3 linked regions of the Homo sapiens genome follow. The protein of the gene in region 1 purifies or fractionates together with the protein of each later gene. This does not show direct contact. Each region holds a gene or a part of one and is shown on either strand. Other genes may lie near its edges. The genes, in order: PCCB, SCCPDH and LARS2.

Region 1 (3,752 bases):
CGCGGGTGGATCACCTGAGGTCAGGAGTTCAAGACCAGCCTGGCCAACATGGTGAAACTCCATCTCTACTAAAAATACAAAAATTAGCCAGATGTGGTGACACATACCTGTAACCCCAGGTACTCTGGAGGCTGAGGCAGGAGAATTGCTTGAAGCTGGGAAGCAGAAGTTGCAGTGAGCTGCTGCACTCTAGCCTGGGCAACAGAGTGAACTCTGTCTCAAAAAAAATAAATAAACTTACACCCTTTGACCCACTAATTCCTCTTCTGGGAAAATCTACGGAAATGGTCAAAAATTGTTTTAAAAGGGGTGCAGGGCCGGGTGCAGTGGCTCACACCCATAATCCCAACACTTTGGGACGCCAAGGTGGGTGAATCACTTGAGGTCAGGCGTACAAGACCGGCCTGGCCAACATGGTGAAACCCTGTCTCTGCTAAAAATACAAAAAAAAAGTTGCCAGGCATGGTCGTGGGCACCTGTAATCCCAGCTACTTGGGAGGCTGAGGCAGGAGAATAGCTTGAACCTGGGAGGCAGAGGTTGCAATGAGCCAAGATCGCACCATGGCACTCCAGCCTGGGCAACAAGAGCAAAACTCCGTATCAAAACATAAAAATAAAAAGGGGTGCAGGAGGGGGTTCATATTAAATCAGCCTCCTAAGTTAACTTTGGCAAAAGAAAAACAGCTTCTGGAGGCTTCATCTAAACCTAGTAGGATCTACCTGGGAAAGGGCTAGGCGATGTTCCAGGGAAGAATTGAGCAATAGGCCCCAACAGAAAGAGTGTACAGGAGCACTGACAGGCCTTTCCAGAGGATGATCTAACATCTCCCTCAGCCCTAACAGAGTAGGTTAGAAGTAGCCCCAGGGGAGAGAAAGCACTCCTAGCACCACAAACCATCACTAAATTTACATTTCACTCTCAAGTGTCAAAAGGAACTGTTACCTTTGGACCCTTGTCAAATGCGAATTTATGACATCTGAATCAATATTAGACAAATATAGAGCTGTTCAAATCTCCTCACTTTAAGACCCCATCCCTCCCCCAGTGCCTCCCTCATGGTTGTGAGTTGTGCCTGAATACTCTTCATCTGTAAGAGTTTCACTTCTGCACCTTCCCGTTGGTTAATTCGTTCAGCACAACGGTCCAGACTCACCCACCAGTCACGGACACACTGGGCAAGCCTGGTTTCAAGTCAGGGATCACCTCTCCAAAATGGGCCGCCCAGCTTATCTCTGAAGGCCAGCTGGATTCTCGCCTCAAAACCCAGGCGGTGGGTGGCAGTGTTTCAACTGCTCAGTCCAGCCAAACATCGAGAGTAGCCTGCGCACTCCCAGAAAGGCCACCTGCTTCCGACACGTGCCTTTGCTACCCATCAAGGCGAGGCATGCTAAGGCCCTAAAGAGCTCGACCAGGCATTCTGCGGGCAGAAGTTCCACAAGTTCCTGCACGCGCACATCCCCCATTTCATGTTAGTGGAGTATGCCCAAGTTCAGTTTTCCTGCTTCCACAAAGGAGAAAGAACCTACCATCACTCTTTCATGGGGCACGAGAATAAGCACATGGTTTTTACTGAGCGCCTATCATTTTGCTATCTATGGTCTAACGATACACTTGTGAAGGAAGAATTATTATTAAAATGACCCACAGAGATTTAATAAGTTGCCCAAAAGCTTATGTTAAGTGTTGAGCTGGCTAGAGACGAGCCAGATCCGTCTAAATCCCAAGGGTTAAACAGTATGAAAAAGCACACAGGTGCTTCTGCTGGTTATACCCGCCTCCACGAGAAACGCTACAGGTTTTCAAGGTGAACACCCTTGCTCCGGCCCCTCCAGGCACCGTGCGGATTGGCAGGGAGGCCTCGGACGCCGCAAGCCGGGCACGCAGTGATAGGTCGCGGACGCCAGGGGCGGGACTCACTTAGGCCCCTCAGGACTCACTCGCTTGTGCTGCGCGTCAATACGGCGTTGGCCCCCTCCCAGCAGCGCGGTCCGGCGCTTGTTTTCGATGCGTTCGTTAACAGAGGTGGCCTGGCTGCAAAGGCTGCGGACCGCGGCGCGGAGACCGCTCGCCAGAACGCTGAGCCTTGCCCCGACCGCCGCCACCCGTAATGCCGCCGCCATTTTTGCTGTGCCGGCGCGTCCCCTACCGGCGCACCTGAGTACGCATGTGCTAAAGCGTGGGTACGGCGCTTGCGCAGCATCGGCTGGCTGTAGGGAGCCGCGGGGGCTGGACTACAGAACCTGCTTGGGAGTAAGGCGTGAGAGTTCGAGACCCGGTGCTGCCCGAGGAGGGTCGCGCAGAGAAAAAGTACAGGGCCTGCCTGGCTGCACAAAAAAGGGACATAGTCCTTGCTCTTCTCTGACCACCTAGACCCTTAACTTTGTCGTCCCACTTCCTACAGAAAATGATTATAAGATTTAACCAACATTTATTAAGCATTGTGCCAGGTGTTGCTTTTTGCACTTACCATGCACTAGCTTACTATCTGGATTTCACAGATGAGGTAAATCAAGCACAGAGAGATGAGTGATTTGATCAAGAGGCAAGACTGAGGCCGAGGTAGGTGAGCCCAGGAGCCCAAGACCAGCCTGAGCAATATAGTAAGACCCCACCTCTACAAAAAAATTAAAAATTAGCTGGGCATGGCGGCTTGCACCTGTGACCCCAGCTACTCGGGAGGCTAAGGCGGCAGGATGGCTTGGCCCAGGAAGTCGAGGCTGCAGTGAGCCGTGATTGCATCACTGCACTCCAGCCTGGGCAAAACCCTGTCTCAAAAAAAAAAAAAAAAAAAAGCCAAGACTGACAATGTGGTTGGCCAGGATTCAAACTCAGAGACCTATCATTAATATGTGCCAGATAATGAGCACAGGACCCTTAACCTCTAATCAGTAGTTCTCAAAGTATGGATCCCATTAAAGAAAAAACTATTCATGACACTTAATTATTCATGTTTAAGAATGGTAAGGCAAACTTTATTCAGGCCCAATCTGACAGAGGTAGGGATAGAGTTTTGCCATAAGTCAGAGCGATTGGGCTGAATATAGCAAAGTGGTAATTTATAGCTAAGGGGCAGTGTGTGGAAGTCAGTGGATGGAAAATTACTAAGAGGAAACATTGGCGGGGAATCTGGCTAAATTGACCTAACAGGATTCCTGCCCAAGGCAGGTCAGGGTAACTGAACATCACCTGGGGGATGGTGGCGGTATGGGTCAAAACCAGATATGGAGAGTAATCAGATATCAAGAATGGAGGATTCTGGCTAAACTGACTTGGCAAGTTTCTTGCTAAAATGGAATTCCACAAGGAATGACATGGGAGCCCACACTCAGGCCTAGTCAAAGAGAGAGCTCAGAAGAGCCTGACCAATGTTTGATCAAGGAGGGAATCTTGTCAATCCAGCAACTTCAGTATCACCTGGGAGTGAGTTGGAAATGCAAGCTCGAATTCTCAGAACTTACTCCAGACCTTTAAATCAGAAACTCTGGGGCTGGGGCCAGCCATCTGTTTTAGCAGATGACCTTTAGGTGATTCTGATCTGCTTGCTAAAGTTTAAGAACCACTGCTCTAGGAATTTGGAATTGTACTGTTGAGAGCTTGACCATCTGTTTCTCCCACTAACAGGCAGGTCTTCAAGACAAAGAACATGGTTTATATTTCTCATTTTTAGCCACAGAAAACTGCTAAAGTTGATCATGAGCCCTTCCCAGATCCAGCTCATAGCCAGGGCCTTCATAAAGTACAAATTCTGACC
Region 2 (3,652 bases), on another chromosome or scaffold:
AACTTTGGCTGGTAAATGTCTGAATAAGCAAATCAGTGGCAGGGCATGGTGGCTCATGCCTGTAATCCCAGCACTTTGGGAGGCCGAGGCAGGAGGATCACTTAAGGCCAGGACTTTGAGACCAACTTGGGCAACAAAGAGAGACTCTGTCTCAAAAGAAAAAAAAAACCAGAACGCTCCTTTCAACAGCCCAACCCTAAATTCTTACCTCTAAACTTCTCACATATGTCCTGCAGTATAAAACTAAACTAAAATAAATTTTTAAAAAAGAAAAAAAGTTCTCACATAAAATTTAGTTGACAGTTAATTTCTATATTGATAGTGAAAAGTCATCATAAGATTCACTTATTTCCTAGGATTCACATGTTTTATTACACACGAAGTACTTAAGCTTATGGTAATGGATTAATTATGTCTTATTTATCTTAAGCTTATGGTAATGGATTAATTATATCTTATTTATCTCAAGCATATGGTAATGGATTAATTATATCTTATTTATCTGTGAAAACAATTCTGAACTTACTACAAATTAGTCTCCAAGCTTTTCTTAGTAACATACTTTATTAATAGCCAACCCAACAACAATATACTTAGACTAGATATATAAAAAATGGATTTTAAGTTAATTTACCTTCTCTTCAATTTTGGACCAATGAGCGGGACAGGTTTCAGATTTGATACATTTCTTAGTTTTCTCAAATTACTCTGATCTCCAAAACCATAAATTGCTGACTTCCAGGTACCATCATGAATGCTCAACCCCTAATAAAATATTTCAAGAGTTAAAGAAACATGAAAGGGTAGTTACTAAAATGTAAAGCCAAGTAACTTATCATTGTTACAAACAATATTTCACTTATATTTGGACAAGACATAATCCCTGATTTAATAATCTTGAGGAGAATTTTCATGACCAGCTAGGGAGCAGTCACATTCATTAGCTTGATCATACCCAATATTTACACCGAGAAGCCCTTTCTTCTCCCCTCCTATCATTCTTTATATTCTGTAATAAGTTATTTAGTTTTACTTCATCAATTTTACTCAACTAATTGACCATATTCCTTCAAGATCAGCCACTCTAATCCTTTTTTTTCTGCCCCATATGATCTGCAGGAATAGCCACCCTAATCCTCTCTCGATCCTACACAAATTCCTCAACATTTCTGGATATGTCCGTGTGCACATTTATGCATACATACACTGTGTACTGTCCATCTCTCCATCCTGTTACACCTGGTTCCCCGTCTACCTCCAACACCTCTTACTCTAGCCCCAAGTTATAGATCTGTCTTCCTACTGAAGTCTTAGTAAAATAATTGTTTAAAACATTTAAAGTTCACTAATAATGATTTGTATTTTAATTGCTTTCCTCAATCCCTTGATTTCTTTTTGGTATCACAGCCAGTACAGAGTCCTTAGTATTTGCCTGATCTTACTCAGACTCTCATTTATTCACTGATTTTTCATCCTTTCATGAGACTTTGGGCTGTCAGTGCCTTCCATTCTACCAATACTCTTTACAGCTTCCCCAACCCTTACCTCTAGCGCCACCGAGAAACGAGTGGCTGAGACCCCAGGAGAGGACACGACCTCTGAATTTACTATCACAGCGCTGGCCCTTTTTTTTTTTTTTTTTTTTTGAGACAGAGTCTTGCTCTTGTCACCCAGACGGGAGTGCAATGGCACGATCTCAGCTCACTGCAACCTCTGCCTCCTAGGTTCAAGCAATTCTCCTGTCTCAACCTCCCGAGTAGCTGGGATTACAGGTGCCCACCACCATGCCTGGCTAATTTTTGTATTTTTAGTAAAGACGGGGTTTCACCATGTTGGCCAGGCTGGTCTCGAACTTCTGACCTCAGGCAAGCCGCCCGCCTTGGCCTCCCAAAGTGCTGGGATTGCAGGCATGAGCCACCGCGCCCGGCCTAGCACTGACCTTTCTTTCCCAACCTCTAGGTGGGCCTTTTAATTCTCTATTACAGGAATAAACTTCATTTATTATATTGATTGTACATAATTGTATTATGTCCTTCCTTCTATGTTGTTTACATTGTTTAGGTCAACAGAGTAATTCAGAAAGATTCAAAACTAATTCTGTCACAAGATTTTCAAAGAGGGATATGTGGGAGGCAGATATGAAGGTACCTTTCATTGTTAATAAACAAAATAAGAGAAACAATAAAACCATCCAAAGATTCAGGTTTTCCTATCTCAGCTTTGATGATACTGAAAAGCAGAGATACCAAATCTAACTTTCATTCTGGTACAGATTTATTTCTTCTGTTTTATTAAAACTACAACAGAACTAAAGTCTTAAAGGTTTGATTTGTTATCTACTCAATCTGAGCCTAGCCAAAAGGGCCTATGTGAATCTCTACAAATGTAAAGATTCCAAACACCAGGAGAAAACAGCTTTTTAAAAATCTAAACATATTTTCTTATACAACTAAGCCATTGAAAAGGAAAAAATTACATTCAATTTAAAAAACTATTTGCGTTTCACAGAAAAATATAGAGACGTACCTAATACAATTTTATTAAATTGTATATTCATGTATGTTATGAAGCCAACGTACATGTAAACATCCAGGTCAAGAACTACAGGTAACCAGCAACTAAGAAGGCCCTCCTTCCGTCCTGCCTTTACAGTAATCAAGAAAAATTCTTTTCTTTAGAGTTTAATCACCTAAGAATTCATCCCTAAACAGTACAATTAGTTTTGCCTGTTTCTAAGCTCTACAGAAATGCAATCAAGCAAGATTTATTACTGAGTGTTTGGCTTCTTATGCTCAAAATTGTGATGTCAGGATTTACCACGTGTTGTAAGTAACTCCTACATTGCAGCTAGCCTTTTGACTTTCTTAATCGTGTGTTTTGGGAAACATTCTCAATTTTAAAAGTACACAAACGTATCACTTTTTCATTACATTTAATGCCTCTTTGTCTTTTTGTAAAAGCCATTCCCAACCGTGAGGGCATCCACAATCCATCTAAACTTGATTTTGGTACGGGGTGCAAAAGTATGAATCCAATTCCATTTTTTCTCCAAGTAGATACTCAATTGTCCCAGCAGCATCTACCGAAAAGCCCCCTTGCTGTTCCTGCCAACTTGAAGCCCGGAGGCCTGCTGGGAGGAGGAATTCTAAATGACAAGTATGCCTGGAAAGCTGTGGTCCAAGGCCGTTTTTGCCGTCAGCAGGATCTCCAGAACCAAAGGGAGGACACAGCTCTTCTTAAAACTGAAGGTATTTATGGCTGACATAAAATGAGATTTGATTTGGGCAGGAAATGCGCTTATGTGTACAAAGAATAATACTGACTCCTGGCAGCAAACCAAACAAAACCAGAGTAAGGTGGAGAAAGGTAACGTGTGCCCACGGAAACAGTGGCACAATGTGTGCCTAATTCCAAAGCAGCCGTCCTGCTTAGGCCACTAGTCACGGCGGCTCTGTGATGCTGTACTCCTCAAGGATTTGAACTAATGAAAAGTAAATAAATACCAGTAAAAGTGGATTTGTAAAAAGAAAAGAAAAATGATAGGAAAAGCCCCTTTACCATATGTCAAGGGTTTATGCTGACTTAATAACAGGTCTTGATCTCCAAGAGTGTCTTTCTGCCTTATTCTCTTTCAAGAATATCTTGCCTGTTC
Region 3 (3,652 bases), about 91 Mb from region 1:
TCAGCCTCCTGAGTAGCTGGGACTACTGGTGCCTGCCACCACGCCTGGCTAATTTTTTGTATTTTTTAGTAGAGATGGGGTTTCACTGTGTTAGCCAGGATGGTCTTGATCTCCTGACCTCGTGATCCGCCTGCCTCAGCCTCCCAAAGTGCTGGGATTACAGGTGTGAGCCACCATGCCTGGCCTAATTATTTTATTTTCTACGCGGCCCAGGCAGGTCTTGAACTCCTGGCCTCAAGTGATCCTCTCAGCTTGGTCTTCCAAAGCGTTGAGATTACAGGCATGAGCCACTGTGCCTGGCCCCCACTGATCTTAAAAGCTTGGAGAGGACTTCATTTTTAAAAAGCATTTGTTAATAGCTTTAATGAATGCTTTTGTTGTCCAGTAGCTAAGAACATTTGTTGACAAATCCTTTCCCTGGCAAGAAAAATGGTAGTCACACTTAGCAAGAAGGAAGTCCATACTGAAAAGGCTGACTTTTGGCATTGGTGAGAACGATCCTGATCCATCCAGGTTAAATGAATATCAAATGTAATGATGCCGAGGAGGTATCACAATTCATTCATGAAATCAGACAGCGGGGGTGCAAAGAGCCAGAAGACAGGGAGGCCTGAGTCTGGTCCTAGATTTGTCACTAATCAACCAGACATGTCATCTAACTTCCCTGGGCCTCAATGTCCTCATCTGTAAAATATTGGGGGAGAAGGGGGTTTGGACCAGAAAATCTTTAAGAACATTCCAGCATAAAACTAGGTTGTGACTATGGAAAAATGTTTCCTTAAGATAATCAAGCCACACTGAGGCGGTGACACAGTGGGGGTGCTCTCTGTCCCTCTTGGGACCCTGTGGGGCCCCTTGCCACACCTCTCCCTCCCTCCTCTGCTACCAGCAAATGAGGACAGGCCACTTACCGAGAGGGCATTGCTGAGTCCCATCAGCTGAGAAATTGCAGAATTCAGTGAGAAGTCCTCTGTGAAATGGGTGGTCACCTATTAGTAAAGGTTCAATTATTTACTTATTTCAAAATTCTTTTAAGCTTTCCACAAAAAGACTGAATTATCAAAACAAAAAAAAAGGAAAATGAATGGGATGCAAAGATATTTATAAATATATCTACTATCTCAAATAATCGCTATGTTTCATCTACACAAATATTTTAAAATTCAAAGTCAACACTGTTTCCACTGTTTAAGACTATTCTTCCACATATCTGGGATACTGTTGGTTCTCATAGTAGGTGCTTAGAAAAACAGTGCTAGTGGCTGGGCACAGTGGCTCACACCTGTAATCCTAGCACTTTGGAAGGCCGAGGTGGGTGGATTACTTGAGGTCAAGAGTTCGAGACCAGCCTGGCCAATGTGGCAAAACCCCATTTCTACAAAAATACAAAAAATTAGCCGGGTGTGGTGGCGCATACCTGTAATCCCAGCTACTTGGGAGGCTGAGGCAGGAGAATCTCTTGAACCTGGGAGGTGGAGCCTGCAGTGAGCTGAGATTGCGCCATTGCACTCCAGCCTGGGCAACAGAGTGAGACTTTGTCAAAAAAAAAAGCAATGCTAGTAACATGAATAGGACGCAGGACCCACTGATGGGTAAACTCAACATAACAGAAAACAGGAATAAAGGATGCCACTTCTGCTTGGTTATGTGACTTTGCTTCACAGTGACGGTTTTTAGAATATGGGATAAGGTTAATTTTACTTTTTTTTTTTTTTTTGAGACGGAGACTCGCTTTGTCACCCAAGTTGGAGTGCAGTGGTGCGATCTCAGCTCACTGCAACCTCTGCCTCCCAGGTTCAAGTGATTCTCCTGCTTCAGCCTCCCGAGTAGCTGGGATTACAGGCGCGTGCCACCACGCCAGGCTAATTTTTTGTGTTTTTAGTAGAAACGGGGTTTCACCATGTTAGCCAGGATGGTCTCAATCTCTTGATCTTGTGATCTGCCCGCCTTGGCCTCCCAAAGTGCTGGGATTATAGGTGTGAGCCACTGCGCCTTGTCAATTTTACATTTTGAAATGTACAGTCAACATAAGAACATTAACACAGCTTGTCAGCTTTTTCATGTTTCTGTGCTTTTCCATTTTGACTATAGGCAAGAATACAGAAAAGTAACACATCTTTAAGGATGTCAAGAGTTTCCAACTTGTTGAAATAACCTAATTCTTTTATCTGACAGAATAGAAGAATTTGCCAAATCCAGGGAGAAAATATGTGGTATGAACTCAATCGCTCAGGCATCACTCAGACCCCTACATTCATTCAGGGAGCTCTGTTCCTCCACATAGAGAGGGTACAGAGGCCAGAAATAAAGCTGAAGAAGTGTCAACAAATAAGACCATGCTGGACCCAGGGCCACTTCAGGTTATACAAACCAGAGAGGCAAAAACCTGCCATGCATCATTGTGTTCATTATCAGAGTGCAGATGAGCGACACTGATTAACTTTATGTCTGAATCAGCATAACTTTTTTTTTTTTAAATCAGCTTAAGAAGAATTTGGGATATCAGATACCCATTACAATGACTTCAGATTTGCAGAAATTAACCCACAATAGTTCACATGGATATTGTGTAACAAAGTAACTGAGTGGGAAAGTCCTCACTATGTGGAGGACTGGGATTCTAATCTCTGCTCAGTTCCTCACTAGCCGTGTGACGTTAGGCAAGATATCTGGACATCATCTCTGTCCCCATCTGTACAATGAGGAGGCTACAGAGGATAGTTTCTTAATGCCCCTTCCAACTCTAAAATTGTATTTCTGTTAATGTAACATATGCGGTGTCATCCTGGATGACAGGGTGATCCTGGATTTGGTTCTCTGCTTGGATGTGTTAAATGTGGAAACATGGAAAGTGGCAGCTTCCTGAGACCCAGGATGGACAAATGTGAGACATCATCAGAGAGCCATTTCCTGGGGGCATCTCTTTCCATTAGAACATATGCACTGTTGATCCACCTTGGTAAAGTACCCAAAACAGTAGGGCCAATCAATCAAAGCAAGAAGGACCGCCATTGCCAGGAAGGAAGACCCACAGTGGCCCAACCCAAGGCAGGGAGGGCAGCAAAGACCACAGGCAAAGGTTCCCAAAGAGTGCTTGGTTACAGAGTTAACCCCTGGAATTGGAGAGTTTCTGACCTGAGAGATGACGGAGTTCTTGTACTCCCAGAGCTTCCTGGCCTCAGCTTTCTCCTTGTTACTCAGCAGCTGAGGCTGGGGAGACTTCCCAGAAGCCCTGGCCTCAATAAACCGAGTTGTCAAGGTCCACAGTCGTTGTTGCCATCTCAGCACCCCAGGGAGAGCATCAGCTGAATTCAGCATCAGTAAATGAGAAAGAGAGAGCGTGCAACATAAGGGTGATTGACTTGGTATAACTAAGCAGAGAAAAACACCTGTGAATTGATGTGACACTTCACTGCACCCTGATGGATTCCTCTGAGGGCAGGCTGAAGGATCCTCCCTGGCCTTCAGTGTCTGAGAATTCAGACCAGGACCAATTCTATCTCATTTTAGTGCCCAGATTCAGAGCACTGGATGGCAGGGCCACTCAAAGTGCCACCCACCAACGGTCATGAGCTCAGAAGCTTGGTCAAGATGAGCCCTGGTGCCCCGCCGCCTTGATTAAGCAAGCTTGCTGGGACAAAAATGCCATGGA

What was found.
Region 2: the proteins of PCCB (region 1) and SCCPDH fractionate together in Homo sapiens (co-fractionation; one large-scale study listed by BioGRID). This does not show direct contact.
Region 3: the proteins of PCCB (region 1) and LARS2 purify together in Homo sapiens (affinity purification with mass spectrometry; one large-scale study listed by BioGRID and IntAct). This does not show direct contact.

Annotation. Positions count from the first base shown.
Region 1 is NC_000003.12:136,248,745-136,252,496, reverse strand, and holds the start of PCCB (propionyl-CoA carboxylase beta chain, mitochondrial isoform 1 precursor), read right to left. Parts: upstream 2,158-3,752; 5' UTR 2,122-2,157; coding exon 1,939-2,121; intron 1-1,938. UniProt on the Homo sapiens protein: This is one of the 2 subunits of the biotin-dependent propionyl-CoA carboxylase (PCC), a mitochondrial enzyme involved in the catabolism of odd chain fatty acids, branched-chain amino acids isoleucine, threonine, methionine, and valine and other metabolites.
Region 2 is NC_000001.11:246,755,339-246,758,990, reverse strand, and holds part of SCCPDH (saccharopine dehydrogenase-like oxidoreductase), read right to left. Parts: intron 766-3,652; coding exon 635-765; intron 1-634.
Region 3 is NC_000003.12:45,517,556-45,521,207, reverse strand, and holds part of LARS2 (leucine--tRNA ligase, mitochondrial), read right to left. Parts: intron 3,306-3,652; coding exon 3,136-3,305; intron 990-3,135; coding exon 912-989; intron 1-911.